3 separate regions of the Homo sapiens genome follow, and all the other regions are linked to region 3. The links come from fine-mapping of genetic effects on gene expression. A gene starts in region 3. Each other region holds a variant in brackets. All regions are shown on one strand. Distances are between the middles of the regions.

What was found. PIP is the estimated chance that this variant, and not a neighbour inherited with it, causes the effect.
Region 1: its variant is fine-mapped to the expression of GFI1B in whole blood (TOPMed, PIP above 0.99).
Region 2: its variant is fine-mapped to the expression of GFI1B in testis (GTEx, PIP 0.94).

What each region holds. Positions count from the first base shown.
Region 1 is chr9:132,756,163-132,766,416 of GRCh38, forward strand. The region is part of intron 11 of AK8 (adenylate kinase 8); the gene reads right to left. Among named protein-coding and RNA genes, the nearest start is that of GTF3C4, 91 kb to the left of the region's middle. The variant CT/C (reference allele first, on the strand shown) is at 6,015.
Region 2 is chr9:132,938,524-132,948,777 of GRCh38, forward strand. TSC1 (TSC complex subunit 1) reads right to left here and starts at 6,093. Exons shown (of 23, transcript NM_000368.5): 1 at 6,020-6,093. MIR548AW (microRNA 548aw) reads left to right here and starts at 7,184; the gene lies at 7,184-7,248. It also overlaps a transcript of GFI1B not described here. RefSeq lists silencers at 5,701-5,760, 5,821-5,880, 6,411-6,490 and enhancers at 5,965-6,698, 6,011-6,310, 6,671-6,810. The variant G/A (reference allele first, on the strand shown) is at 5,671.
Region 3 is chr9:132,974,402-132,984,655 of GRCh38, forward strand. It overlaps GFI1B (growth factor independent 1B transcriptional repressor), which reads left to right and starts at 4,293. Exons shown (of 7, transcript NM_001377304.1): 1 at 4,293-4,440.

The DNA.
Region 1 (10,254 bases), 220 kb before region 3:
TTCCTGGTGTACATAAATTCCACTTCCCTTTGTTTTCCTCTCACAGGAAGTACAAAAACAGCAGCTCATTCTTGCATAGAAAAGAATTCTCCTCCCAAAAAAGAAGCTCCCAGGTTCTAGAGAGAAAGCTTTGAGGCCCTCAGTTTAAGCCATTCTGCCTTCTGCAGTGTCTGGGGAAAGCTGCTGTCGGGCCCAACTCTCTCCTAGAGGCACCTTGAGGTGTGGAGCTTGGCTCCGAAGCCAGGCGGGGAGCCAGAGGGAGGGCGCCTGCAACCTGCGAAGCAGTTTCTTAAGTGATCATTTGCATACCTAAAAATTCACTGTTCATGGTAACAAATTCCTTTTAAACCACCTTCTGCACTGATAACAAATCTATGTTTTGCCAAGGTGAGGGGAGAGGCGATCAGCTGCCGGGGGCCACACTCCGAAGTGCGAACAGAATCTGAAGCACCCTCTCACGGGAAATGCCGGCATCTCACTGACCTGATTCTGAGCAAGCAAGAGGGCGCTGGATTGTCCCACTCTTTGAAGCTCAAAATGGGCTTCTGTAAGCACCGAACGCACGTCACCTAATTTATCTCTCATCACACCCTGTGAGCAGGTGCCATTGTCATCATCCCCCCTTTAGAGACAGGCGAATTCCGCACCCCCATAAAACGACTCACTCAAGGTCATTATCAGCCCTACATCTATAACTCACGGACTCGTGTCTAGAGAGTTCTGCCTGGCTGATTTTCTCTGTTCTTCTAACTACTCCACAACTAAATGTTTCACAAAGCCATTTCCCCCCCAAATATTTATGTTCTCAAATGTTTATTGCCTCTCTATCATGATCAAGATTTTATGAGCACTCTATATCAGTTGTGAATTAAATACATAATTTCGGAATCATCGCATTCCAGTTTGGTGCTACATTTGTCTCTATTACACCGCAGCAGTTGCCGTGGGCACCCGACAGATGACAACGGAATGCGTGTGTCCAGGGGCAGCCAGAGTGACTGACATTTCAATCCAGAAGCTGCCACGGGGACCTGGTGATTCCCACCGTTAGCGGGAGAGAAGCTTCCACAGCTCACCGGGATGGTCAGAGGGTTCCGGAGCAGGACAAGGCTAGGATGGGCTCCCCCCGTCACCCTCACTGCACCAACGAGGCCGTGTCCAACCCGCTGGCCTCTGGGGAAGGAGGGCCCGCCATCTCACGGCAGGTGAAGAAGACAAGGAGAAAAAGAGGCCATTTTTTTCCTCTGATGAGCAGTACCCACTCTCTTATAGAACAATCCGGGCTATGCCTGGGGGCCTACTGGTTAATCCCATCCTGTATGGGAAATACAGAAAGAATATCGAGCCTGGAACAAAACTGCTACAATTTATTACTCCCTCACATTTACCTGTATGCACTACCTGACTGACCCTCACAGCAACTTCACACAATGTGGACTGCTAATTCCACTTTGCAAGTGAAGAAACTGAGGCTCCGAAAGGCGGCAACCGCAGAGGTGGATCTGGTTCCTGTTTCCAGGCCTTTGCCCCTTCTGTTCCCTCTTGTGGCCAGCCCCCCGAAACACTAAAAATGGAAATAACTGTCATTACTGAAATACTCTATCTGTCTATCAAAATAGAACTGCCGTGGGTAATATAGCCATTCCTGAAAGAAAACATTTAGGGATATTTTAAATCCATCATTGATCCTAAGGGAGGGAAAAAAAAGGTCCCTAAACCTTAAGTTTCATGATGATAAACACTTCCACAGCTTGAGCACGAGGAGGGCAATTCCACTGAACTGGGCCACTAACTTGGGCAGGGCTGCAGTTTTGATGGCTCTGGGGGCTGTCCCTCACATCGCTGTCCTGATGTCCTCATGGTCTGCCATGTGGCATCACCCAGCTTAGATGAAGCCTTTGTTTCTTGGACGTTTCCGTCATTTCCAAAGCATCCATCACTTTCAGTCATCCAATTCTTTATTGCCACCAGTAGAATTATGAGCTCTTGGGCACTTTGGTGGCACCCATTGAAAACAGAAGTGCAACTACAGTTCCCTTCCAGGCTTTTAATCTGGAGAAACAGTCACACGAATACGCGGAGCCACACATACGGCATGTTTATTACAGAACCATTTGCAAAGGGAAAGAAAGAAAAAAGTCTAAATGCTCTTCAGCAGGGCTTCCTACTCATCCATATCCTCATCAGTACTTGGTTTGGACAGACTTAATGTTTGACAAGCTGGCAGGAACAAAACAATGTACCATTATGATTTAAATTCGTATTTTCCATTTTCTTTTTTTTTGTTTGTTTGTTTATGTTTTTTGAGACAGGGTCTGGCTCTGTCACCCAGGCTGGAGTGCAATGGTGCGATCTCGGCTCACTGCAACCTCTGCTTCCCTGGTTCAAATGATTCTCTTGCCTCAGCTTCCCAGGTAGCTGGGATTACAGGCCTGTGCCACCAGGCCTGGCTAATTTTTTTTTTTTCTGCATTTTTAGTAGAGATGGTTTTTCGCCATGTTGCCTAGTCTGGTCTCTAACTCCTGAGCTCAAGTGATCCGCCTGCCTCAGCTTCCCAAAGTGTGGGGATTACAGGCATGAGCCACCGCATTTTCCATTTTCTAATGAGGTTTAGCAACTTTTTCTGTTTTTTGGCCCTTGTGTTTTTTCTTTTGTGAAATCCATGTTCACGTCTTAAAAAAATAAAACAAAACAGCCTTACTGAGATATAATTCACACACCATAAAATTCACTTATTTACAGTGTACAGTTCCAGCCGGGCATGACAGCGCATGCCTGTAATCCCAGGACTTTGGGAGGCTGAGGTGGGAGGATCGCTTGAGCCCCAGAGTTCAAGACCAGGCTTGGCAAAACGGCAAAACCCTGTCTCTACAAAAAAATACAAAAATTAGCCTGGTGTGGTGGTGTGTTGTAGTCCCAGCTATTACGGAGGCCAAGGTGGGAGGACTGCTTGAACCTGGGAGGTCGAGGCTGCAATGAGCTGTGATCACGCCACTGCACTCCAGCCTGAGGGACACAGTGAGACCTGGTCTCAAAAAAAAAAAAAAAAAAAAATAGAAATGTACAATTCCACAGGTTTTAGCACACTCCCAGAATTCTATGATCTGTTCCTGATTTTTCTGCCCATTTTTATATTAAGCATACTTTATCTCATTCATTTATAGGAGCTCTTTATAAATTCTGGATACTAACTCTGTTTTGGTTGCAACTAGCCTATCCCAGATTGAGTCTTTTCATTCTTCAGATGAATGCCTTTGGCTGAATAAAAGTTCTCAATTTTAATGTAGTCAAATTTATTTATTTTCTTTTGTTGTTTACGCTCTTTGGGTCTTATTTTAGGAAGACTTCTGTATCCCAAGATCATAAGATAGTTTCGTATATGTTCTTCTACAAGGTTTTACAGTTTTGTCTTTCACATTTAAGCTTTTAAACTACCTGGAATTGATTGTTACATATATGGGGCAAGTAGCTGTCGAAGGTAATTTTTTCCCACATGGGTACCCAGTTGCGCAGCATCATTTATTGGAAAGTCCATCTCTTCCCCCTGATCCGTGGTGCCACCCCTGTCATTATCAAGTGTGAGTGTTTCCGGGCTCTGTGTTCTGTGTCACTGGTTAGTAGATCTAATTTAGTGCTAACACCTCAATGTCCTAATGGTTTTAAAATAAATAGATATTTGAGAGGGCAAGTCCTCCCACTTTGTCTTTCTTCGGGAATAACTTGATAAATTTTTAACTCTTTGCTCTTCTATGTAAATGCAGAATGAGCACAGCAAGTTGCATCAAAAAGAACCACTACCAACAATTTGGAATTTTAATTCTGATTCCACTGGATCTATGATCAATTTGGGAAGGGGTGACATCTTTATAATATTAGCGTCCCTAACCATGAACGAGACATTGCCTCCCTCTTAGGGATTCTTACATGCCTTTTAATAAACTTACACAGTTTTTCCAATAAAGGGCTTATACATCTTTCATTGTGTTTATTTCAGTGTACACTTTTCTTCTGCTATACGTTGTTAATTTTTTTTTTTTTGGAGATGGGGTCTTGCTGTGTTGCCCAGGCTGCAGTGCAGTGGAATGATTATAGCTCACTGCAGCCCTGACTCCTGGGTTTAAGTGATCCTCCCACCTCAGTCTCCCAGTAGCTGAGATTACAGGCTCAAGCTGCTGTGCCTGGCCATTGTTGTTGATTATTATCTTAGTTTTACATTTTCCAACTCTCTGTTGCCAAAGAAAGTGTAAATAATCTTTGGATCTTTAATTATTGATCTTTTAGTTGGTAACCTTGCTAAACTCTCACTAAAACTATTATGTACTCCATAAATTCTTTGGGGCTTTCTTAATGTAGATAATCATAACACCTGCCAATAATGACTTTTGGTCCTTCCATCCCAAGTCCTAGAGGTTTTATTTACTTTTCTTGTCTTTACTGCACTGTTTAATAATGTTTCATAGAAATGATGATGGGGGAATCCTTGTCTTATGCTTGATTTTAAAGGGCATGCTTCTAACATTTCACCACTAAGACCTATGGTTGCTATAGTTTGGGAAGGTATCTTTTATCAGGTTAAGGAAATTCCCTTCAGTTTATAGCTAAGAATTTTAAAATCATGAATAGATATTTAATTTTATCCAATGCTTTGTCTTCATCTATTGAAATAGCTATATCTCTTTTTCTTTAATTTCTTATTATTGTGAATTCAAGTAATAGCTTTTCTAAAGTTGAATCATCCTTGAATACCCTAATACACAATTGGATTGGATTTGCTAATATTTTGTTTAGGATTGTGGCAACTATATTTACGAATAACATTGGCCTGTAATTTTTCTTATTTATATTATCTTTGGGTTTCACATTAAGACTTTATTAATCTTATGAAATGTATTGTGATGTGTTCCCTCTTTTTCTTTTTCTGTTTTCTGAAAAGAGTTTGTTCACAATGGGAATAATCAATTCCTTGAATACTGTGGTAGATTTCACCTGTAAAAGGCATCTGGGCCTAGTGTTTAAGGGAGGGGAACAATTCATTTTTATTATTCAATTTATTTAATAGTTATGGGACTTTGGATTTTCTATTTCTTTTTTCTTTTCTTTTCTTTTCTTTTTTTTTTTTTTTGAGACAGGGTCTCACTCAGTCACCCAGGCTGGAGTGCAGTGGCACAATCTTGGCTGCCACCTCTGCCTCCCGGGTTCAAGCAATTCTCATGCCTCAGCCACTCGAGTAGCTGGGATTAGAGGCATGTGCCACCATGCTCGGCTAATTTTGGTATTTTTAGTAGAGACAGGGTTTCGCCATGTTGGCAAGTCTGGTCTCAAACTCCTGGCTTCACGTATCTGCCCACCTCAGCTTCCCAAAGTGCTGGGATTACAAGCATGAGCCGCTGCACCTGGCCTCTATTTCTTCTTATGTCACTATTCATAAGATTTTTTTTCCTATGAATGTATCTGTTTTATCTATGTTTCCAAATGTATTGCCATAAAGTTGTTTGTAATATTTTTCCTATCCTTGTAATCTGTTATATTTATGTTACTATATTTATTATCAAAATGTGTTTCATCCTCTTTTTCATTTCAAATATGTCAATCTGTTCTTTCTTTCCTTTCTTTCTTCCTCCCTTTTTCTCTTCTTCCCTCCCTCCCTCCTTCTCTCTCTCTCCCTCTCTCTCTCTTTCTTTCTTCTTTTCTTTTCTTCCTCTCTCTCTCTCTTTTGTTTTCTTTAGAGACAGAGTCTTGTTCTGTAGCTCAGGCTGGAGTGCAGTGGTGCAATCTCAGCTCACTGCAACCTTCACCTCCCCAGTTCAAGCAATTCTTGTGTCTCAGCCTCCCGAGTAGCTGAGACTACAGCTGCATGCCACCATACCTGGCTAATTTTTGTATTTTTAGTAGAAATGGGGTTTTACCATGTTGGCCAGGCTGGTCTCGAACTCCTGGCCATAAGTGATCTGCCCACCTTGGCCTCCCAAAGTGCTAGGATTACAGGAATGAGCCACTGCGCCTGGCCATTCTTT[CT/C]TTTTTAATTGATCAATATTGCTAGAGATTTGTCGGTTTATTAATTTTGCCAAGGAATCCACTTTTGCTCTACCCAAGCTCTGTTAACTATTCCATTGGTTTCTGTTCTCTCTCCAGCTACTCTTTGAGTTTAGTAATTTTTTAACCTAGGTCAGCGGCTTAGATCATTAATTTTCAACTGTTCTTCTTTTGAGATTTATTTTTCACTGAATACCATTTATGTTCCTTCAATGTGTGACTCCTTTCAATTAAAAAATCAAAGTAGATGATGTTGGAGTGACCCCAGGAAGATGACTAGCTAGAGGCCTCTAGTCAGCTCTCCCTTCCACAAAGACGGCCAAACAGTGAATAAACAACTATATTTAAATGAAAATAAATACAGGAGTGAGTCCTGGAGTTCATCAAAGGAGTAACAGAAACCCTGGTGAGCAAAGAAACTCTGGATAGCCACATAGAAAACGGAAGGAAACAATCCCAGCACTTTGGGAGGCTGAGGCGGGCGGATCACCTGAGGTCAGGAGTTCCAGACCAGCCTGGCCAATATGGAGAAACCCTGTCTCTACTAAAAATACAAAAATTAGTCAGGGGTGGTGGTGCATGTCTGTAATTCCAGCTACTTGCACCCAGGAGGCGAAGTTTGCATGAGCTGAGATTGTGCCACTGCACTCCAGCCTGGGTGACAGAGCGAGACTCTATCTCAAAAGAAAAAGAAAAAGAAAAGAAAAAGGAAGGAAACAACAGGACTCCACTGCCCATCCTCCAGCCAGAGTCAGCCAGGAACCAGGAGGAACGTCTTCCTACAGCGAAAAGGTAGAAAAGAGGATTCCAGCAGCTCCCACCACCCTTTGGACACCTGCTCACCACTGGGGTCCTCACAGGCCCTATGCCCATGCAGAGAGCTGTCTAGTATCTACACAGCTGTGCTCCCCTAGAGAAGGAGGTGACACAGTACCCTGCCACTGTGGCCAGCCGGCTGCTGTATGACACCATCTTGAAGCTGGAGCTACCGCTGGAGTGTGCCTTGCTTTTGGGGGAAAGTCACAACAAATTTTAAAGAATTGATATCATATCAAGTACCTTTTGTGACCACAATGGCATAAAACTAGAAATCAATAACAAGAGGAACTTTTGAAACTGTACAAATACATGCAGATTAAACAACATGCTCCTGAATGACCAATGGGTCAATGAAGAAATTAAGGAGGAAATTAAAAAATTTCTTGAAACAAAGGAAAATAGAAACACACACTCTTCAATTAAGTTTAGCCTAAGGCTGCCATCTTACATATTTTAAGTTTGGCCTAAAGGTTGCTTTATACACAGTAAGCTGTAATCTAACTAGATGCGTAAACAGACTGTAACTTATTTTTGTACCTATCACCAAGTTTTGGCCAACTAAGGCAGCCAACTGTTCAAACCGTATTCAAATAAGGCAAATGCCAAGCTATAATCAATCCAGTTGTTTTTGTACCTCGTTTCCATCTTCTGTATGTCACATCATTTTCCTTTTTCTGTCTACAAATCCACTCCACCCACTTGGCAGCGCTGGTGTCATTCTGAGCCTGTTCTGGTTTGGGGGGCTGCCCAATTCATGAATTGTTCTTTGCTTAATTAAAGTCTGCTGAATTTAATTTGTCTAAAGTTTTTCTTTTAACAATCCCAAAGCCTACAGGGTACAGCAAATGCAGTATTAAAAGGGAAGTTTATAGTGATAAACACCAACATCAAAAAAAGTAGGAAGATTTCAAATAACCTAATGATGCATTTCAAGGAACTAGAAAAGCAAAAACTAACCCAACCCCACATGAGTACAAGAAAATAAATAATAAAGATCAGAGCAGGCTAGGAGCAATGGCTCATGCCTGCAATCCTGTCCTAGCATTTTGGGAGGCCAAGGTGGGTGGGTTGCTTGAGTCCAAAAGTTTAAGACCAGCCTAGGCAACATGGTGAAACCCTGTCTCTACTAAAAAATAATTTAAAAAATTATCTGGGTGTGTTGGTGTGCACCTATAGTCCTAGCTACTCAGGAGGCTGTGGTGGGACAATCACTTGAGCCTGGGAGGTAGACGTTGCAGTGAGCTGAGATCACACCACTGCACTCCAGCCTGGACAACAGAGCAAGACTCTGTCTCAAAAACACAAAAACAAAAACAAAAAACAAAAAAACAAGATCAGGGCAGAAATAAAACTAAAAGAAAAATACAAAGATCAACAAAATTAAGTCAGTTTTTAACAAAATCAATTAGCTTGATTAACAAGAAAAAAACAGAAAAGACCCAAATAAATCAGCAACAAAAAAGGACACATTACAACTGGTACCACAGATATACAAAGGCTCATTAGAGACTATTATGAACAACTATGCACCAACAAACTGGAAAATCTAACAGAAATGAATAAATTCCTGGACACATACAACCTACCAAGATAGAATCAGAAGAAATAGTAAAACTGAACAAACCAATTATGAGTGACAAGATTGAATCAGTAATAAAAAGTCTCCCATCACAGAAAAGCCCAGGACTTGATGGCTTCACTGCTGAATTCTACCAGACATTTAAAGAAGAGCTAACTGATAGTAATGGCCAAAACCACAATTCCTTTTGCACCAACCTAATACCATTTCTTCTCAAACTTTTCTACAAAATAGAAGAGGAGGTAATTCATCCAAATGCATTCTATGAGGCCAGCATTACTCTAATACCAAGGCCAGACAAAGATACAGCAAAAAAAGAAAACTATAGGCCAACATCCTTGATGGACACAGAAGCAAAAATCCTCGACAAAATACTAACAAACTGAATCCAGCAGCACATTAAAAAGATCATTCACCAGCTGGGCGTGGTGGCTCACGTCTGTAATCCCAGCACTTTGGGAGGCCAAGGCGGGCAGATTGCCTGAGTTCAGGAGTTTGAGACCAGCCTGGGCAACACGGTGAAACCGCATCTCTACTAAAATGCAAAAAATTAGCTGGGCGTGGTGGCACGCACTTGTAGTCCCAGCTACTCGGGAGGCTGAGGCGGGAGAGTTGCTTGAGCCCAGGGGGCGGAGGTTGTAGTGAGCCAAGATCATGCCACTGCATTCCAGCCTGGGCAACAGAGCGAGACTCCATTTCAAAAAAAAAAAAAAAAAAAAAAGAGAATTCACCATAATCATGTGGTGCATCTCAGGGATGCAAAGATGGTTCGATATATGCAAATCAATAAATGCAATAGATCACACCAACAGAATGAAAGACAGAAACCACACGATCATCTTAATAGATGCAGAAAAATCATTTGATAAAATTCAACATCCCTTCTTGATAAAAACCCTTAACAAGCTGGGGACAGTGGTGCACACCTGTAGCCCCAGCTACTCGGGAGGCTGAGGTGGGAGGATCACTTGAGCCCTGGAGTTCAAGACCAGCATGGCCAACATAGCAAGATGAGACCCTGTCTCTAAAATAAACAAGCAAAACAACAACAACAAAACCCTCAACGAACAATGTATAGAAGGAGTATATACCTTAACACAATAAAGCTCATATATATGGCAAACCGATATCTAACTTTATACTGAATAGGAAAAAGTTGAAAGCTTTTCCTCTAATAACTGGAATAAAACAAGTATGCCCACTCTCATCGCTCTTATTCAATACATTACTGTAAGTCCTTGCCAGAGCAATTAGACACAAAAAAGAAATAAAGGTCATCCAAATTGGAAAGGAGGAAGTCAAATTATCCCTGTTTGCAGATAGCATGATTTTGCATATAGGAAACCCTAAAATGCTCTACCAAAAAACTCTTTGAACTGATAAACACATTTAATAAAGTTGCAAAAGACAAAATTAACATACAAAAAATTAGTAGCATTTCTATACACCAAGAATAAACTGGTGGAAAAAGAAATCAAGAAAGCAATCCCAATTACCATTGTTACAAAACAATACCTAAGAATAAATTTTCTTTTTGAGACAGGATCTTGCTCTGTTGCTGAAGCTGGAGTGCAGTGGTGTGATCATGGCAAACTGCAGTCTTAACCTCCCAGGTTCAAGCAATCCTCCCACCTCAGCCTCCTGAGTAGCTGGAACAACAAATGTGCTCCAACATGCCTGGCTGATTTATTTTTATTTTTAGTGGAGATGAGGTCTCTCTGTGTTGCCCAGACTGGTCTCAAACTCCTGGGCTCAAGCAATCCTCCTGCCTTGGCCTCCCAAAATGTTGGAATTACAGGTGTGATCCACTGTGCCTGACCTCC
Region 2 (10,254 bases), 36 kb before region 3:
TGAAACAGAAGGCACATAGATCAATCTGTTTTCACTGTTCATCTTAACTAATATCATTCTTTAGGTGTTTACAGACGGATGGCTTATATGCCTAGGATTACACATGAACTCTAGCCTAACAGCCATGGACAGCTGTCATTAGCAGGACCCGTACGCCATTTTTTTCACATATCTCTGCCCTAGCCAAGATGCATTATGAGCTGTGAGAGAGCCAAGAGTACACACAAACCTTTTGAAAATACTAGTGGCAGATACCTAAGATGTCTTTAGAATGGATTTATCTGAAATTACAGGTGAATATTCGAATTTTTCAAAAACAAGTGCTGTGATATGTGGCCTAGACACTACCCTCTACGACTCCTCAGGACTGTATGTAACATAAAATAGGTGACCGCATATCAATTTGCCTAAGATAATTTTGTACACATTTGTCTATGATGTAAAAATGTACTGCATGTGTAAATGAAGGCAGATGTCTCTTCACTATAACTTGTTTCCTATATTCAATTTTTTATCCATAAAAATTCAAGGACAATTCAGACACAGGTCCAGGCATGGATAGACTATTTTATTATCAGGTACAGTTAGATAGAGCAGAAATGTTACACTGTTAAGTTAATGTTCCGCTCTGGCTCAGGAACTCTCAGGTGACTTCTTAGGGTAATATTCTATCAAGTGAACCAAGACGCCTTCAGCACAAATGCATCTAAAAAGGGTAAGATACTTGCTCCCATTCTCTCTTCCTATCAGTGCCTAGAAGGAAGGAAAAAAGGGTAGGAAATAACTACTTACTATGTGAGAGTAAAACAGCTGATGGTAAAACCTGCCAACATGTGTAGTCATGTGTGATTGAATAGGTCTTAGTAGTTGGAGTCCCTCTCAAGGACAAACTGGGGCAGGAGAGCTCCAACTTGCCAGATTCTCCATTCAGAATTTCTGCCATCAGGGGCCTTGATGGATGGTTTGCTAAAGCTTATAGCCTATCCCAAAGGTGAAGAATCTTCTAGTAACTTAAGTGTAAGGCCAGAGCTTAATTTTGGTAAGGCGTATCTCTTCAATAAATAATGCTTACGTTTTGACTTTCTATTAACATGAACAACATTATTTACTAAGATAATACAGGCCAAACAGATACCATGTATATTTCAAAAAGACACTACGCAGAGCTTCTCCTAAAAGAGATACAAGCAAACTGTGAGATATCTTTAGGTTTCAGGTTTATAGGACCAAAATAGAAGTATTCTAGGGAAGAAGGGTATAGTTTGATAGTCTAGGGCAGTGGTTCTCAAAATGTGGTCCTGGCACCACGAGCAGGAGCCTGGGTATTTGTTAGAAATGTAAATTCTCAGGCCTTTCACTAGATCTCGGAATTGGATACTTTGGGGGTGGGGCCTTCTAGGTAATTCTGACGTCCACTAAAGGTTCAGAACCACTGGTCTAGGAAAAAGAAGGATGAAGGTAAAAAACATTCATTCATTAATATACCTCCTTTGAGGTTCAAAAGGAAAAAAATATATAGAGTGCATAAACCTTGGGGAAAAGGCCCAGTGGAATTCTGCCAGGTGCTAAAGGTACCAGCACAGACCGAATGCCAAGCCTGACAAGCACGTAGCAGGTTACATACCTGGGTACACTACAGAAATTTAACAAAGTAATTTATAACCCAGACAGTACATAAGGCCACCTTCTGACTTGGGCCTTTCCTGACTACTAGTTAAAAAAAAAAAAAAGTTTTTTAATAAAGCCTAAGTCCATTTTTAGAGCAGTAATCTATCTAAAATGATCAGCTGGGTTTCAAGCTGCGTCCATAAATTACCTGAAGCCATATCCAAAATCCCATGTCTGTATGAATTTTTTTGGTGATGATGGGACATAAAGGGTAGAAGAGAAATTTGGTCCATAGCTTCCCACAGATTTTCAGAGGGCAACTGAGTCCACACACCTTCCCACCACCACCAAAGTTAAGAACCACTGACCTGACCTGTGAGTTAATTTATGAGGTCAGCAGATGAAGCAGTTTATCACAGTGGAAGACTAAATGTTTGGGCTGTGGAGTCAACCAAAAAGGTTCATATCCCAGCTTAGCCACTGAATAAGTGACTATAGGCAACTTACTCTAAGCCTGCTTCCTCTTCCTATCCTGCCTCTTAAGGCTGTAAGAAGTTAATGGGGTATCAGACATGTAAAATACCACAGTGTTTGGCACATGAGTACTCAAAAAATATAAACTTTATTATAACAATATTACTACTTCACAAAAATGGATTGCTGGGTACATAATGCTTAGCAGTCTATCCATTTAACAACTGGTATTTGAAACATTGATACAACCATTGTATAACTTAAAATGGATACAGTTCAAGTTTGTTACTATGCTCTGTGAACTACTCAAAGTAGCAGAGTCTTAATGATTGCAGACATTAAGGTCACTGCCTCTGTTCTTCCTACAGCTCCCCTCTGTGTCTTCCATCACATCACCCACAGAAGGGCAAAACTGTCCTTTGTTACTCCAACACTTCTGGGCCTCTACTGCCATCATATTTACTTAAGAGAGTGACCTGTGAGTTGTAGGGCAGTAACTACTATGCTTTATTTTGGACTAAAGCATGGTTTTTAAGACATTTTACTTATTAGATGTAAATCTGAATTCATTCAACCGTAAAAAGTATTGTTATCTTTTGCTGATTCCATGTTCATAATAAAAGTTAGCACTGAACGAGAGAAAGGACAAGAAGAAACTGACAAGGTCCTGAGACAGTGTATTTTATACACAGTATATAAAATTTGCATTTTTATTCTCTCCCATGAAAACAGACATAAAGTTACTAATTTCTAGCAACTACAGTCTTAAAAAGTAAACCAGAGAAAGAATAATCTCAAACTGCTGACAGTTTACCTCTTTCAGATGAATTTAAATGGAGAATGAGTATTTCATGCTACCCAAATTATATTAGTTACCAATTCATGATCTGAGATTAAAAAAAACAAACTCAGTGTTTGAGTGTATACTACATATACACATTTCAAGCAAACAGCCACAGATTTTAACGCTATTAAGTACACTTTTCTTTCACGCCTTCAGCTACTTAAATGACAAAACCAATGCAAAGACTAACCTTTCAGAGATTTATAATATGGGAAACTTATAGGGAATTACCTTTTCAAAGAGTATTATGATGTAAAGGAAAGGATAAATGATAAACAGATCTTCACCCAACAGGGTAGGCTCAAAGTCACCAATTTGCTTGGTTTTTATAAAACCATTAACAGGTTGACTCAATCGATTTAGTCAGAATATTTAAATGACACCCCAAAGGACTTTAAATCACAGAAATGTAGGCCTAGAAATACTCATTAATTTACATTCCAACTTTTACTTCACAGATGAAGACACAGGCTCACAGAACTTAAGTGACCCACTGAAGGTCAAAAGCTATCTGACTCTCTAGAAAAGCCTGAAATGGTTGAGATATTGCTATATTTGGCTCATCGGCATTCAAGAATATCCAATTAATTCCAGGAAAAGCTAATTTTAGTTCACTATGGCCCTGGAACCCAGAAATAAACATACCTGTAGCCAAACAAACTTCAAATGAAGACAGAGCTATAAGAACAAGTCAGCTCTAATTCAGAGCCCAAAATTCACCCACCACTACACAAATAAAAGGCTACAAGCTATTTTAAGAAATACCTCTGTGATAAATAATAAATGAAAATAGCCAGAATGATACTTGAAGCCAGTGGTCCTCAACCTCCGGTGCACATAAGAATCAGTCTTCTTCCAAAATATATATACAAGGTGTCCGAATATGTAGGTCTACCTAGTATAGTGCCAAATATCTGTACATCAAGGTTCTCATGAGCACTAGGGTTTCAGATCTCGTTTCCACCAAGTTCATTATTCTGCAAACATTACATATAGAGGTATATATTAGATTTGCCCTAGTAAGACTGTTAAGTTTCATCTCACGAATGAAACCAGGCATGCACAGAAGGCATCATATTACACCACAACAGTAGCAGTATCAGTTTTTACTCTTAACCCAGTGAGGAAGAGGACAACTGAGTCACAGGACCTGAAGCACTCTAATTTTATGGAAACAAGAAGGCTGGTAGCCACCTGCTTTCTAACCAGGAATTTAGGAACGTACCAAGTGTTTATGACACCAGGAAATGCATGCAGCAGAGAAAGTTTACATCATCTGCCCTTCTAGGCACGTGATATAAGAGTGTTTTGGATAAGATATTAACTTTAGTAAGAGGATATTTTCCGTTTACATCTTCTATAAATACCCCTTAAGTTTACACCAGGTGGTTAGAGGAAGATTCTGCAGCTCCCTAGGGCAATAGCAAAGAATGTTTCACTGTTTCTGAGGAGCCTCATTTGCCTGATGCATGACTGTTAAAGGTGCATTTCCCTACACAACCCTAAATCAGTTTTCACATTTGCATATTCCAGATTTACTCAGGAATGTTCAATTTAAGAATCACAGGTGGTTGCTCGGTAAATCAAAGGCTCCCCAAAGATTAGGTTTTATAATGCTTCCTGAAATTTACAGCTCCACTTTGCCGGCCTGTTTGAATTCAGATGACTCCAAGTTGATCCCAAAATTATAAATCAAAGTATCTCAGAAGAGTATTATTCTATTTTAGCACTTTTATAGCTTACTCTATGCAACGTGAAGTGTTATTTGTATGCTTTCTATTTAAAAAAAAAAAAAAGCCAGCAAGGATTTTAGCAGGACTTCTTTCTTCAGTAAACTCATCAGTTTTATTAAACTATCAAATACTTTTTAGCCTAATTTAGACTAACAAGTTCACATGCACAACACTGCCATCCCAAACAAAAGCTAAGGCGGATAAGCCAAGTGCATCCCCCCACTTCAACATTAAACAGACACACGTGCATAAACCTTGGCTAAATGATAAATTTTAATCACTTACAGGCCAGCTTTGATCAAATAACAGATAAATTTAAGAGTCATATCTTTGGAGTCAGTCAGATCCCAGCAGTTCCAGTCCTGGCTCAGATACAATTGGGGTGTGAACTTAGGCAAAGTACCCTGCTCTCTCCGGGCCTCAGTTTCTTCATTTGAGAAGATTGGAGGTGTTAACAGTGGCTGCCTCTTCTCTTTGTCGTGAGGACCAAAGGAGATAATGACTGCCAAGCACTTTCACAGTGCCTGGCACACAGAGAGCACTCCATTAACGTTAGCTGTTGTTCTTAGGAGGACCGCGTCCCCTCCCAAGTCCTCACCACACATCCAAAACACACAAAGCAAAACTCTTTAACAGGAAACACAAAGAAAGAGCTTTAATTCTACAAGGTCCCTCCGATTGCAGGCTCTTCATCCTCCAGTTCCTCAAATGAATGAATGAACGCCTAGGAGGGGCTCTGCAAATAGCTGTCTCTTAGGAATCCCCTTTGCCCACTTTAAGGTAACTGTCTTTCACCACCAATTAAACACCCACAAGTACACCCAGAGCGAGTCATGCAAATTTCAGCGGAGACACCGAATCCAGGCGAGTCCTTGATCCCCACAGGCGACCTCCATTCATTCTCCACGCCCCTATACCCCGACCCCTCTCTTTAAGTTCTGGGACCAGCCCCACCCTCGCGACCCTTCCCCTCCCGCCAAGCGTCTCTACCCTGCCCTCCGCACCTAGCGT[G/A]AACCTGTCACCCCACCAAGTGAGGGACTGACGAAGGGGCCCACCTCGCCCCTGCCCGAGGGACCGAGGCCCAGGGTGCAGCCGTCCCCTCGGGGGCCAAGGAGGGGCGAAGTGCTCCGTCCGGCTCGCCTCTCCTCCCCAGGGACCCGCCAGTCCCGGCCGGGCCAGCCGGAGATAGCGTGTAATAAGAGGGAGGGGAGAGCTCTCCGAACCCCCCTTCCCCGGGATCCCTACCAAGCAAGTGAGTCTCTTGCTCCAGCCCCTCCGAGCCTCCCCGGCTGGAGTCATGGTGCCGGGGCTGCCCCAGGAAGCCCCCATAAAAAGGAGGGGGAGACACCCCCATACTCACCCACCGTCTCCTCCCCCTCAGCTGTTTACCTCACAGTCCCTCCAGCCTACAGGGCGCCGCCATCTTGGACGTACAGCACCTCCCCCGTCGTGAAAGGGCCAAGGCCGACGGCGGCCTCCGCCACGAAAAAGAGTCCCCCTCCGGACCTCCCCTCCTTCTCGAAAGGAAGGATAGACGGCCGCGCTCGGCAGCCCCGCCGGAAGGAAGAGGCTCTTCCACTCATAACTGACGATGTGGGTTGGACGAGAAAAAAAGTAAGGAGGGTTTTTATGGAGGGGGGCGGGGCCGGGCGGAAGGATCCGAAAGGAGGCTGCGAAGAGATCTTGTGACTCCGCGAAGGAGGCAAAAAGAAGGGCCGGCGCGGCGGGAGGAGCCACGCGAGAGCCCGAGGGGGCGGGGCGGGCGGTCACGTGACTGGCGGGCGGGGGGACGCGGCGGAGAGGCGTAAACAAGCTGGCGGCGCCTGGGTGTGGTTGGAGCGCCCTGCCCCTGCCCCCCGAGTCGTTTCTGCCCTTCGCTTGCGTGGCGCCCTCCGAGGGTCTCTCTGTGGGCGGCCTCAGAGCAGCGATCCTGTTTCCCAAGGAGCTGCTGGGGCCCGCGTGGGTGAAGGGCCTGCTTGGGAGCTTTGGAGTTGCAGCTCACCTGGGAAGGGGCGGAAAGCTGCGGGCCAGGGCAGCCCTCCTTCCTGGGCTAAACATTTTCAGAAGCCCGCCTCCGGGATTGCGGGGGACCCCCCTGGCTTCTGCCTTCAAGTAGCTCACACTTCACACCTACTCATGACATCTAGGGGAAACCAGCCCTAATAGGAGACAGCTTGAAAATCAGAACGCCTTATTCCGTTTCCTGCTGAAACAAGGCTTTAAGTCCTCCAAGCCTCAGTTTCTTCCTCTGTGAAATGGGCATAATGACATCTGTGACGTGAAGAATCAAGGAGATGAAGTATGGACAGCGTTTAGCCCAGAGTCCTGCGCCTAGTAAATGCTCACTCACTAGATAGGTGGCCTTTATTGCGAGGCTGAGTATGATGGGCTCCATCCAGCACGAACACAAAGCCCTGTGAGAGGAGGCAGAGTGAGATGAAGTCGAACTGTGGGATATGAAAGGCATTTTGAAGGAGTAGGCATCAGGTTGGGTTTTAAAGGAAATGTAGGTTTTGTGAAATACTAGGTCGGTGCAAAAGTCATCACGGTTTTTACCATTAAAACCGCGATGACTTTTGCATCAACCTAATAGAACCAGGCGAGGCGGCTCGGGAGAGAAGGCCATTCCAGGCAGAGGGAACCAAAGGAGCAAGAGCCTAGGGGCAAAAAAGTGTTGGGTGAGTTATGGGAATAACAGGTTTTGTCATGGGAACCAATTGGGTCACAGTGCAAGGCAGCCATGGTTAAGGGGGGCCAGGTGTGTGAGTAGCCAGCACCGTGGGTGCCTTCAGAATTCTGAAAAGGCCCTGGATGGTATCGGGTAGAGCCGCTGCTAGTCAGTATAGGGCCTTGGTGAGAATTAGAAAAATGGCACCCCTGGGCTGTATTTTGGCCCCTATCCACCAGCCCCAAACCCTCCTGGGCCCTTGAGCAGTGAACAACCTTTATAACCATACGTCTAGAGCCACGAAGGCTTAGGAGGGAGGTGAAAATTGAACTGATGATTCCTCTGTTCTAACACAGTCGCTGGGGGGAAGCTAAGAGTTCTAGATTCAAACAGACCAGAGTTTGAATGTAGGTTTCAGCCATCATGTTCTAACTGGATGAGCCTTAGTCTCCTCACCTGCAACATAGGGCTAATAATAATGCTAGTTCATGGGGATTTGGGGTGAAGTCAGTGAGTCATTAAGCTCTAAGTGGCACAGAGCCTACTCCAGTTAATGTTATTTTTGATAACTGTTAAGTGCCAGCTGTCAGCATCCATCACTTCCAGAAACGGGTCCACCAAACACTAAATTCTTCTGTGTCACCACCCAAGCATAGTCTGCATGGGGTCCAGAGATGGAAAGGTCGAGGGAAACGGGGAAGGGTCTGGGTTCTCTCAGTTCCACCAATCTGCAAACTACTTTACAGGAACAGACTCTTCCCTTTGCATTCACACCAGGGAAGGGATTCAAGATTTCTGAAATCTTCAGAGATTTCTGAGACCACCAGTGATGGGAGACCTAAGGAGGAGGGCAGGGGGAGCAGCACTGCTCTGGAGCTCTGACCCAGGAAGCCCCCCCACACCCTGACCTTCCTTGGCTCCATGACCTCATCCTGCAGGAATGCATTCTGCCATGGAGGAGAGCAGCCATAAGCAGAGCTCATCAACTGCTCACTTTCCAGGGGGCCATAACCACATTGTCACTGTTTCTACACTGTCTGGAAGAAGAATGGGCATTGTTACCTCAATATGGGACCACCAGGGGCTTGCAAGAAGAGGCTGAAGGTGACAGGCAGAGACAGCTCTACTACCATCTCCTGCCACTTACCAGGCTGGGCCACCTAGATGTTTTCTGCTTCTCTGGGGTTGATTTTTGTCATTTGCTCAACAGACACTATTCAGACCACTACCTTCCATACACCACCCTGGAGCCTCCCTGTGACGGGGCTTCCTGACCGGCCTGTCTGAGCATGAAAGGGCTGAGCCCTCCATAGGCGGGCGTGCTGACAGGATGCACGTGGTGGAGGACATCTGCTGCATTTGGCTGTGTGACATCTCCCCCTCGCCTTCTGAACAGGTGAACCGCCCATCCTCAATTCTTTCAGTGCTGATGGTCCTCACAATCACAGTACCAGCCCCAGGCCACAGCAGGTGGACCAGGCCTGGCCAATCTGAGATGCCCATCATGGAGCTTGTTAAAAGAAAGCTTAAGACAAGTTCAATTAGATTAAATTTAATCGAGCAAAAAAAAAAAAAAAAAAGAAAGAAAAAGAGAATTCATGAATCAGGCAGCCTCTAGAATCAACAGATTCAGAGAGACTCCCGGGGTCAGAACAAATTTATAGACAAAGTAAAGTGGCCTGGCGCAGTAGCTCACTTCTGTAATCCTAGCAATTTGGGAGGCCAAGGCAGGTAGATGGCTTGAGGTCAGGAGTTCGAGACCAGCCTGGCCAACATGGTGAAACCCTGTCTCTACTAAAAATACAAAAATTAGCCAGGCGTGGTGGCGGGTACCTATAATCCAAGCTACTCAGGAGGCTGAGGCAGGAGAATCACTTGAACCTGGGAGGCAGAGGTTGTAGTGAGCTGAGATTGTGCCACTGCATTCCAGCCTGGGTAACAAAGAGAGACTTGGTCTCCAAAAAAAAAAAAAAAAAAAAACTAAACTAAAGTGACATACAGGAATCAGAAGTGAGGTACAGAAACAGTGAGATTGGTTGCAGCTCGGCGTTTGCCGTATTTGAACAGTTTGAACACTCAGCAGTCTATGAGTGGTTGAAGTATGGCCGCTGGGATTGGCCAACACTCAGCTATTGTTACAAGTGCATACTACTAAGTTAGGTTTTCAATTTTGCGTGCCTATTAAGCTAGGTTACGGTTCGTCCACAAGGACTCAAATATAAAAGTACGGAGTCCTTCTCAGGCCATATTTCATTTGCTTTAACAAGCTGAAATGGTTGGTCTACAGTGGACCTGTGACTTGAGCTGGACTAGAGTGCTCCTCTGGGTCTTTATAGATGGGTGTTTAAAAAAAAAAAGCAATTTTTCTCTTTCCTTTGGGGTCACTAAACTGCGATGAGGAAGCTGTGGCCTCTCCCTTCCCCCGTCCTACAGCAAGGTGTGTGACAAGTCGAGTTAAAGAGTGAAAGAGACAGAGATGGAAAGAGAAATTCATGCTGCTATCTCCTGCATTTCCGGAGTCCCTGAAACCAGCTTTGCCCTGGCCTTCCAAGTTCCATGAAGCAATAACTATTTTGGCCAATGCTAGTTTCATTGGATTTCTGACCCTCATCAACAAAAGGCCTTCTGGATGTGGTGGGATTCAGAGGCCTTTGGAAGGACACCACCAGCCAAAAATATTTCCCACTCTGTGCCCGAAGTTCATCCGCTTGAATTGCCTTTTGGCTTTAGCTTTCAGCTCTCTGTGCAGCAGCCTCCTGGCCAGGTGCCCTGCCGTTGGTGGGCAACCCCCGCAGGATGGGGTCTGAGCTTCTGCTGGCAGCCCCCAAGGCCCTCTGCAGCCCCGGCCTCTCTAGCGCATCAGTTTCCCCTTGCTTTCTAGCACCGTGTCCTCCAGTACCAAGGAACGCCCAGAGGCTTCACACCGC
Region 3 (10,254 bases):
CTAGCCTGGCCAACATGGTGAAACTCTATCTCTACTAAAAACACAAAAAAATTAGCCAGGCTTGGTGGCGGGCACCTGTAATCCCAGCTACTCGGGAGGCTGAGGCAGGAGAATCGCTTGAACCTGGGAGAAGGAGGTTGCAGTGAGCCGAGATTGTGCCACTGCCCTCCAGCCTAGGCGACAGAGCCAGAATCCGTCTCAAAAAAAAAAAAAAAAAAAAAAGGGAAGACAAGCAAGATATTTTCAGATAAGTGTGAATGCTAAGAAGAAAGGGGTGGGTGAAGGAATAGAAAGTGACTGGGGTGGGGAGGTCCTACTTTAGTTGAAGGTCAAGGAGGTCTTTCTGCAGAAGTAACATTTCCGCTAAGACCTGGATGACAAGAAGGAGACAGGCTTGGGGAAATCAGAGAGTTAGGCCATCCAGGCAGAGGGCACGAGAAGTGCCAATGACCTGAATGAGTGAGATTCCAGACAGTATCATTTGAGCATCTGGATCCAACCATGTCAGAAGCTGAAAATTTTCTGTGACATGAATTAATTGTTTCATTGTTATTATTAAATGAGTTTAAATTGTGTTTCTGTACTGGGCACGGTGGCATGCACCTGTAATCCCAGCTACTCAGGAGCTTGGGAGGATTGCTTGAGACCAGGAGTTCAAGACCAGCCTGGGCTACAGAGCAAGACCCCATCTTTTTGAAACTTCCTGCAACTCGCATCTGGAAAAGTGCTGTTATTTGAAAGGGTGCCGACATTGTGAAAAACACGGAGTATTGATCTCTGAAGCTGAGATTTTTGTCCTAAAGGTAAAGGGAAATTATTGAAGGTTTTTAAACCAGGGAAGAATCTTCCTGATCTTTGTTCTTTTTCTTTCTCTAGGCTCAGCTCTCAAAAGTCCTAACCTTCCCTCCCCTTCCTTCAGTCTGCGTTTCTTCCCTAATGAACTTGGCTGCTGTCAGCTCCCTTCAGGGGACCTCCAGCTCTTAGCACAATGCTGTTCTTCTTTGAGACACTTTTCCCTACCTTCCTTCTCCCAACTAACTTAGCCTAGGCATCAACTTAGATATCACTTCCTTCACCAACCCCCCCAAGCCTGGGTCCATTTCCAAATGCCCCAGGCTTCTTTTGTATACTATGTTTATATCACAGCACTTGTCACCCCAAATTGTAAATTTCAGGTTGCTCTTTCCTACCCTCTAGACCAGGAAGGAATATGAAAAGTCCGGCTGTTTTTTGAAACCCCAGCATGTGGTGCCTTGTTGTGGGCACTCGATACACATGTGTTACATAAGGGAGGGAAGGAAAGAGCTGATACACGAAAGGTACCTAATGGTAACTGTTAAATGAATGAATAAACTGATGAATGGGCATGGGAATGCGGAAGCGATTTAGCTCTTGGGAGAGACTAAATGAAGGTGTTGACTCCAGGGCTGCTCACTAAGGGAAGTGCTGGTAGCTTTACAGGCAGCCCTGGAGGGGACACAGAGCATGGGAAGTCCAGGGCTGTAAGGGCCTGGGTGAGGCTGGCTGGGGACTCCTGGCTTCAACTGCTATGCCAGGGGACTGGCTGCCTGGCCACTGCTCTCCCATCAAGGGGAACCTGGGTGGCTTCATCTGCAGGCTGGGTCCCTGGTCTGGGTCTGGGAAGGCTGTCCCTGTGTCAGTTACTCACGGGGGAAGGTAGGGACCCTAAAGTGGGATTACAATCTTAGAACAGCAGTTGAACTGCATGTGCCTGATACAGCCGCTTCCTATTAGAAAACACCCTAAACAAGTGGAGGAAGCGTTTGGTGAGATAAACCATGAAACCATTAAAGATTTAATGGTGAAACCATTAAAGATGTCAATAAAGGCTGCAAACGAACTTAGGAAGCACTTCCATAAAATCATGTTTCACGGAAAATGACACGCTGGTTTACAGTAGCAAAATGTGTGTATGTGTGTATAGGGAAGTGAGAACATGAGGAAACTGGGGACTTGTTGACTTGGAGAGAATATTTTAAGTTTTCTGCATAATGACAAGCAGTTCTAGCTGATTGTTGGCAATGTACAACACCCACAGAATACTCAAGATGTGTCCCTGGCTGGGCACAGCAGCTCGTGCCTGTAATCCCAGCACTTTGGGAGGCTGAGGCAGGAGGATCGCTTGAGGCCAGGAGTTCAAGACCAGCCTATTGTGAATAGTACCACTATAAATGTAAGTGTGCAAATATCTCTTCGATTCTGCTTCCAGTGATTTTGAGTCTATACCCAGAAGTAGATTCACTCACTTTTGACATTGCATTCTCTGAATTTTAGAGGAGACATTTGAGAACTTCTAAATTTCAAATAAAAATAATGATTTAGACCAGACTGGACAGCATAGCAAGACCCCATCTCTAAAAAAAATAAAAAAATTAACCAGGCATGGTGGTGCGCCTGTAGTCCCAGCCACTCAAGAGGCTGAAGCAGGAGGATCTCTTGAGCCAGGGAGGTCGAGGCTGCAGTGAGCTATGATTGCAACACTGCACTCCAGTCTGGGCTACAAAGCCAACTCCTGTCTCTAAGAAAATAATAATAATAATAATAATTTTCTTGAGACAGAATTTTGCTCTTGTTGCCCAGGCTGAAGTGCAATGGTGCGATCTGGACTCACCGCAACCTCTGCCTTCTGGGTTCAAGCAATTATCCTGCCTCAGCCTCCTAAGTGGCTGAGATTACAGGCATGTGCCACCACACCCAGCTAATTTTGTATTTTTTGTAGAGATGGGGTTTCTCCATGTTGGTCAGGCTGGTCTTGAACTCCCGATCTCAAGTGATCCTCGCCTGCCTCGGCCTCTCAAAGTGCTGGGATTACAGGCGTGAACCACTGTGCCCAGCCAATAATAATTTTTTAAAAAGATGTTTCTTTCCACCAAGAGAGACCACAGAGCTGGGAGCAGTGGTCTGCTGTCTGTAGCCTGGGGCTGGGACTGACACCCCAGCATTACTGAGGCCTGGTGACCACAGGGTTGTGTCCTCCTGGCTGGTGCTCCAGGGCTGGCCCAGCAGAAAGACCTCGCCTGAAACACCCCTTTTTCTTCATTTTGAACCTTGGACTTGCAGTTTAAATTGGGGCTTCCTGTCACCAGACTTGTTTTCTTTATGAGGGAAACATAATATCTCCAGCACCCGGGCTGGAAGAGCAGACAAAGCAGCCTAACAGTGCTCTGTTTGTGGCGTTCTCATCTTATGCAAAACCTCCTGAAATAAATCAGTCATCCTGCAAGCGGGAGGAGGCGGGGGCCAGAGGAGGAGGGAGAAGGTGGGGAGCCAGGGGATGGGACGCCCTGCCAAATGGGAAGAAATGCCCCAGCCAGCTCAGCCAAGCTTTACCGCCCTCACTCCCCCCAGCATCAATGGGACACCCCAGAGGCCCCCACTGGCCTCCCCATCACTTTGTCTGCCACCAGAGGGCAGCACACACGGGCTCTGGCACCTGGCCTTCAATCTGTATGGCAGCTTCAGCAGGCCGAGCGTCTCCTGGCCTCCGAACTCACTGCCACACCTCCAGGGTGCCTCTACCCGCTCAAAGGTCATATCTGGGGGAAATGCAAATTTGATGTCTCTTCTGAGATATGACCTCTGCAAGGACAAGAGGGGCCTCTATGCATGTGGCCGGCTCGGGTACTAGGGGCATTGCACCAGCCTGGCTCTCACAAGCCTCAGGGTGCTGAACTTGGGGAGGGAGGGAGGGGAGGAGGCAGCGAGGAGGGAGGCAGGGAAAAAAGGAGGGAGGAAAGGAGGGAAGAGAGAGAGAGGAGAGGAGGAGAAGGAGGGAGGGAGGGAAGGAAAGAAGGAGGGAGGAAGAAGGAAAATAAGGAAGGGAAGGAAGGAGGCAGGGAGGGAGGAAGAAAGAAAGGAGGAAGAGAAGGAAGGAAAAAGGAGGGAAGGAGGGAAGGAAGAAAAAAGGCAAGAGAAAAGAAAGAAGAAAAAAACCAAAGAGCAATGACTTCCCTATGCAAAATCGAGTTTTATAAGTTAGAGCTTTTTCTAACTTTAATTTTTAAAATTTAATAATTTAGCCATCACTTTCTTTTTGTGCAGATGTTATTCAAAATTTCCAGCGAAATTCTGAATTTCTCTGCAGAGAGAAAGCGTGCCGCTCCAAGTGTCGAGGGTTAGAAATGAGAATTCGAAGTCTTGTGTCCTGGAAAGTTTTGATAAGCAAATACGGCTGAGCTCCCGCGCTCTCTTCATTGGCTGCTTGTTCACCGCCAGATTTTGACACAAATAATCAGATTGAAAATCAGGGAGGGGAACAGAAGAGGAAAAACACACAGAGAGACAGAGCAAAAAGGAGAAGTATCTATTTGTGCAAAGAGTCACACAGTTGACAGAGTGGAGGCCAGTCCCGAGAGAGGCTTTGCAGTTCCCACCTCGGGAAGCTCCGGCAGAACCCAGGCGAGGGACAGCTCCGGACAGGTGAGTGCTGGAGGATGCGTTTCTACGCTTTTGTTTTGAAATGTGCCTGTGCGCCGCAGGTGGCTTCACAGCAGGCTCCCTGGCTCCTCCTGCGGTCCTAGGAAAGGTGAGGTGGGCTGGAAAAGCTCTGGAAGGCAAGGAGCCAAGGGAGAAACAGGGTGAGGACGTAGCCTCGTCTGAGCCACTGTGCTAGGAATTGCGCCTTTGCCGGCTGCGCAGAAACACTTTTCAAAATTTGATTTTAGGCTGACAGACGTCACCTTCGGGCACAAAGTCATACCCACAACCCAGCTGTCCTGGGGACCTGGGCAGTGCTCAGGGAGACACACTTCCAAGTGCCTGAGTTGTGTTCCCCCTCGGAGACAGTCCCAGACTTTAGGGACTTGACTAAAGTTCCTGGGACACTTTTTTTTTTTTTTTTTTTTTTTTTTTTGAGACAGAGTGAGACTCTGGAGCGCAGTGGTGCGATTGCACTGAAACCTCTGCCTCCCGAATTCAAGCGATTCTCCTGCCTCAGCCTCCCAAGTAGCTGGGATTACAGGCGCGTGTTACCACGCCTGGCTAATTTTTGTATTTTTAGTAGAGACGGGTTTCACCATGTTGGCCAGGCTGGTCTCGAACTCTTGACCTCAAACGATCCACCTGCCTCAGCCTCCCAAAGTGTTGGGATTACAGGCATTAGCCACTGCGCCCAGCCAAATTCCCAGGACACTTTGAGAGTCAGGCGCTCTCCCCTCCAGAGCCTACTAAGGGGAGATGACAGGGCTGCCCTCTCCCACACACTGCCCAGGCTCCAGGAACAATAGGACCGACCATGGAGAGGTACTGTTTCAGCTCGCCTTTCCCTGTGGCTGTTGTTAGCCCTTTCCACCTATTTTTGGAGAAAAAAAACCAAGTTTAAGTGTTGAGGCATCTGAGGAGACATGCTCACTCTAAAACAGGACTTGTGAAGAGGAGGTCTGCAGAATCGCCGTGGGTATGTGCCCGTGTACATTTTTCCGGGGAGAAAGTCCAGAGCTTTCACGAGTTCTTAGGGAGTAAATTCGATTACAATCTGTGGGCATGAGTCTGGTAGATATTAGAAGCCAGCTGAGCTGCACCTGACCGCCTGGACGCGCCTGCATGTTTCTTAGTAGGCAACAGGCAGAATATTTCTTCCAAGTCTAGCAAAGTGTCAAGTTTCTTGTCCTCGGAAGTATTGCAGAAGGAATTCTTTGGACAAGAAAATGCGTAATTCCCCTTGCTCTTTCTGTCAGAGTTTGGTCTTCCTGAAGAGAGTTCTTGGGGAACATTGGAGAGCTATACCTGGTTTCGGTTTGATTAATGGAATCACTCAAAACCAGCGCAGACCATTGCCCCGAAGCTTTCAGCGGGGCAGGGTAGGGTGGGTGGGAATCTTATTGGACAGTACAAGGATTTTCAAAGGCTCTGGGACCAGATGGCTCCAGATCACCCAGGGAAAACAGCCTGATCAAATGGGATTCTTCACTGTCTGTGCCACAATATCCAGACCCTTGGTTGAAACATCAGCAAACACCACCCCCTCTTAGTCTAGAGGGAGGCTTTTCGTGTGTTCCTTGCCAGGAATTCAAGCCAATGGGAGCTGCTTTAGTCTATAATATAGAGATATGCAGAAAGAGTTTCATTCACTCACTTGTCTTTTTATTTTGATAAAATACATATAACATAAAATTTCCCGTTTTAGCCATTTTCAAGCGTACCATTCAATGGTATTAAGTACACCCACATGGCTGTGCAACCATCACCACCATCCATCCACAGAACTGTTTCATCTCATAAAGCTGAAACTTCATACCTATTACACAGTAACTTCCATTCCCTTCCCCTCACCTCTGGCAACCTCTATCTATTTCTGTCTCTATGAAATTGCCTATTTTAGGGACTCATATAAGGAATCACACAGTATTTGTCCTTTTGTGATTGGCTTATTTCACTTAGCATAAATCCTTCAGGTTCATCCATGTTGTAGCATGCGCCAGCATTTCCTTCCTTTTTAAGGCCGAATAATGTTCAATCATATGTCTAGACCACATTTTGTTTGTTTGTTTGTTTGTTTGAGACAGAGTCTCTGTCACAAAGCTGGAGTGCCATGGTGCGATCTTGGCTCACTGCAACCTCTGCCTCCCGGGTTCAAGCGATTCTCCTGCCTCAGCCTCCTGGGTAGCTGGGATTACAGGCACCCACCACCATGCCTGGCTGATTTTTGTATTTCTAGTAGAGGTGGGGTTTCGCCATTTTGGCCAGGCTTGTCTTGGAACTCCTGACCTCAGGTGATCTGCCCACCTCGGCCTCCCACAGTGCTGGGATTACAGGTGTGAGCCACTAAGTCTGGCCATAGACCACATGTTGTTTGGACATTCATCTGCCATGAAACCTGGGTTGCTTCCACTTTTTGCCTATTGTGAATAGTGCTGCTATAAACATGAGTATGCAGATATCTCTTTGAGTCTCCCCTTCCAATGATTTTGGGTCTATACCCAGAAGTAGATTCACTCACTTTTGACATTGCATTCTCTGAGCTTTGGAGGAGACATTTGAGAACTCCTTCTAAATTTCAAATAAAAATGATGATTTAGACCGGCCTGGGCAACATGGCAAAACCCCGTCTCTACAAAAAATACAAAAATTAGCCAACTGTGGTGGTGCATGCCTGTAGTCCCAGCTACTCGAGAAGCTAAGATGGGAGGATCGCTTGGGCCTGGGAGGTGGAGGTTACAGTGGGCCAAGATCAAACCACTGCACTCCAGCCCAGGTGACAGAGTGAGACTCTGTCTCAAAATAATAATAATAATGATGGTGATGATGATGATGATTACTTTCTGCTGGGGCCCCTGGGCCTGACCTGGGCTCATTTTCCCCCGACTCCTCCACGGACAAGTCTTGTTTTCCCCTTGAATCTTTTTTTTTTTTGACAGAGTCTCGCTGTGTCACCCAGGCTGGAGTGCAGTGGCGCCATCTGGGCTCACCGCAACCTCCGCCTTCTGGGTTCAAGTGATTCTCCAGCCTCAGCCTCCCGAGTAGCTGGGATTACAGGTGCCTGCCACCACACCCAGCTAAGTTTTGTATTTTTAGTAGAGACGGGGTTTCCCCATGTTGGCCAGGCTGGTCTTGAACTCCTGACTTCAGGTGATCCGCCTGCCTTGGCCTCCCAAAGTGCTGGGATTACAGGCGTGAGCCACCACGCCCGGCCTCCCTTGAGTCTTTAAACATAAAGGAAGTCAAAAAGGTTCTCTGTAGCTGACCCTGAGAACCAGCTGAGTCTTACCCAACCCTCCCAAAAGGGGAACCCGAGTGACAAGTCTTTTAGTCAAGGTGGTTCAATCTCTCACTGAAGGTCAACGAATTCTACATGGGATTTTAGAGCAAAAGGGAAGTTTAGAAATCTCTTAGCCCAACCGTCCCTTTTAAGAGATAGGAAAACCAAGCCCCAGGTTGGTGGCTGATGCGGTCACAAGCTCCAGGACCCCAAATCAGACTCAACTCCTTGGGCAACAAAGGGGCCTCATTACAGGGACATCACAGGCCTGTTGACCCAAGTCCAACTGGAAGTTAGGGTGCTGGCTCCTGCCAGGGTGCAGGGTCGCCTGTCTTCAAGAAGCACTGACTGAGATTCTGACTCAGGGTCAGGGGGACTCTATCAGGATCGGGGGTTATGGAGTGATAACAGTGAGCCTCTTTCCGGAGGTCCGATACCATCAAGTCCTCTGTTTTATGAAGAATTCCTGAGCTTCTTTCATAATCTCTGCTCTTAGCTCCTTCTCAGAACGGAGTTCATGTCAATCAAAACCAAGTGGTTGTTAATTAACTACAGTATAGGTGATTGGTTCCTGTTTTTTCTTTAAAAAAAAAACAACTCTGCTAACAGGGGCCAAAAGGAAGTTCACCGGGTGCATTTGGCCCCTCTGTGAGCCAGAGGGCTTGGCCGTGGCGTTGGCTGTGTCACTGTCACTTGCCAAGCTCAGGGGAGAGAACACTGGGGGGAGGCAAGAAAGCGGGTGTGGGGCTCAGGGGAGATCACTAGAAGAAGCATGAGAATCACCTTCCTGAGGCTGGAGAACCCCAGAAGCCAGCCCCATCTTGCCCTGTGCCTAAGTGAAAAGTGCTTGGCCAGGGCTCATGAGCGCTAGAAAGTGTCCTTGTTGTGGGGCCCAGGGTTAGAGTCAGTTGACCTGGGTTCTCCTTAGGCCCTGAGCCCAGGAGAATACCAATGCTTCCTGAAGGGAAGTCTGTCCCTGGCCTGGCCCCACCAAGACTCTTCAGGAGCCATGTGGGTCTTTTAGGAGCCTGGAAAAGACTTGAGGGTCAGAGGGTTTGATTTTTCTCCCTCCTTTTTTTTTTTTTTTTTTTTTGAGACAGAGTGTGGCTCTGTCACCCAGGCTGAAGTGCAGTGGTGGTGTGATCTCGGCTCACTGCAACCTCCGCCTCCCGGGTTCAAGCGATTCTCCTGCCTCAGCCTCCTGAGTAGCTGGAACTGTAGGCAAGTGCCACCATGCCCGGCTAATTTTTGTATTTTTTGTAGAGACGAGGTTTCACTGTGTTGGCTAGGCTGGTCTCGAACTCCTGATCTTGTGATCCGTCCGCCTCGGCCTCCCAAAATGTTGGGATTACAGGTGTGAGCCACTGCACCCGGCCTGATTTTTCTCCCCTCTTGCCCCAGCACCCTGCATTTCCCTCTGTGCTGCAGGCGGTGTTCACCGGGTGCTGTGAGGACCTCTGACAGTGCTGGGTGGCACAGTGGCTTGAGAGTAAAATCCTAACAGGCCAGGAGCCCTGGGTCTGAGTCACTTTCCTCTCTGCACCTCAGTTTTCCCACCTGCAACCTGGGAAGACACTGCTTGACACGGGCACACGAGGGAGCTTCAAACTGCTGTTTTCATCCCTAGCACGTCGGCTCCACTCCCTCTGCAGAGAGAAGCCCATGCCGGGCACTGCCCAGCACTTGGCACCCATTCTGCACCGAGTAACTGCCCACCTGCTGGGCTGAAAGTCAAGAGCATGGAGGCCTGGGGCCAGACAGACCCCAGTCCTTCCCTGCTCACTCTGCCCCAGGGTCCTGAGCCCTCCAGGCTTCAGCTCCTTCTTTATAAAATGGGACAGCAGCGGGACTCAGCATCTGGATTAAGCATCAGAATTAAAGGTGTAATAAACAAGGCAGGCTAAGCAGCCCCCTGCCAGAAGGTTTGACCAGCTCCTCTTCTATCACAGAAGCCTTGGCGAGTACCTTTGGTTCTAGTTGATTTCCTCATAAATATTATGCGCAAAAAAGGATCATCTTTTGATATTTTGATAGGCAAACCATGACCCTCACAGGCCCCCTCAAAACAAAGTGCAAGGGGAACCCCACACCCCCAGTCCTCCTCCTGCTCACTGGGTCCCCTCCTCTCCCCCTAGGGTCTGGCCTCCCCATGGGCTTTCTTGAAGCGAAGAAGAGTTAAAAGCGGGAAGGAAGGGGGGTGTGGGGAGCCCTGGTGAGGGAGGGGGAGGAGGCAAGAGGAGGAAGACGTGTCCCTGGGAGATAAGGCCGTGGGCTGCCCCCGGCCCGAGCCTGTGTTCAGAGAGCCGAGAATCTGACCGCGGGAAGGGACCCCAGAGGCCTTCAAGGTCCTTTCTCCTAATTTTAGAGCTCAGAGAGTACAGGGCCTTGAGCGCGGCCCTGGCTTCTGGGAGGCTGCTGCAGCCCTTGGCACAGGGCTTACCCCGTCCTTTGAATGCACCTGCAGTGGGCTGGGTGCTGGGATGCGGGGGAGCACATGCTGAGCACCTCTCACACTCGCTCCTGATGGATAAAGGTCC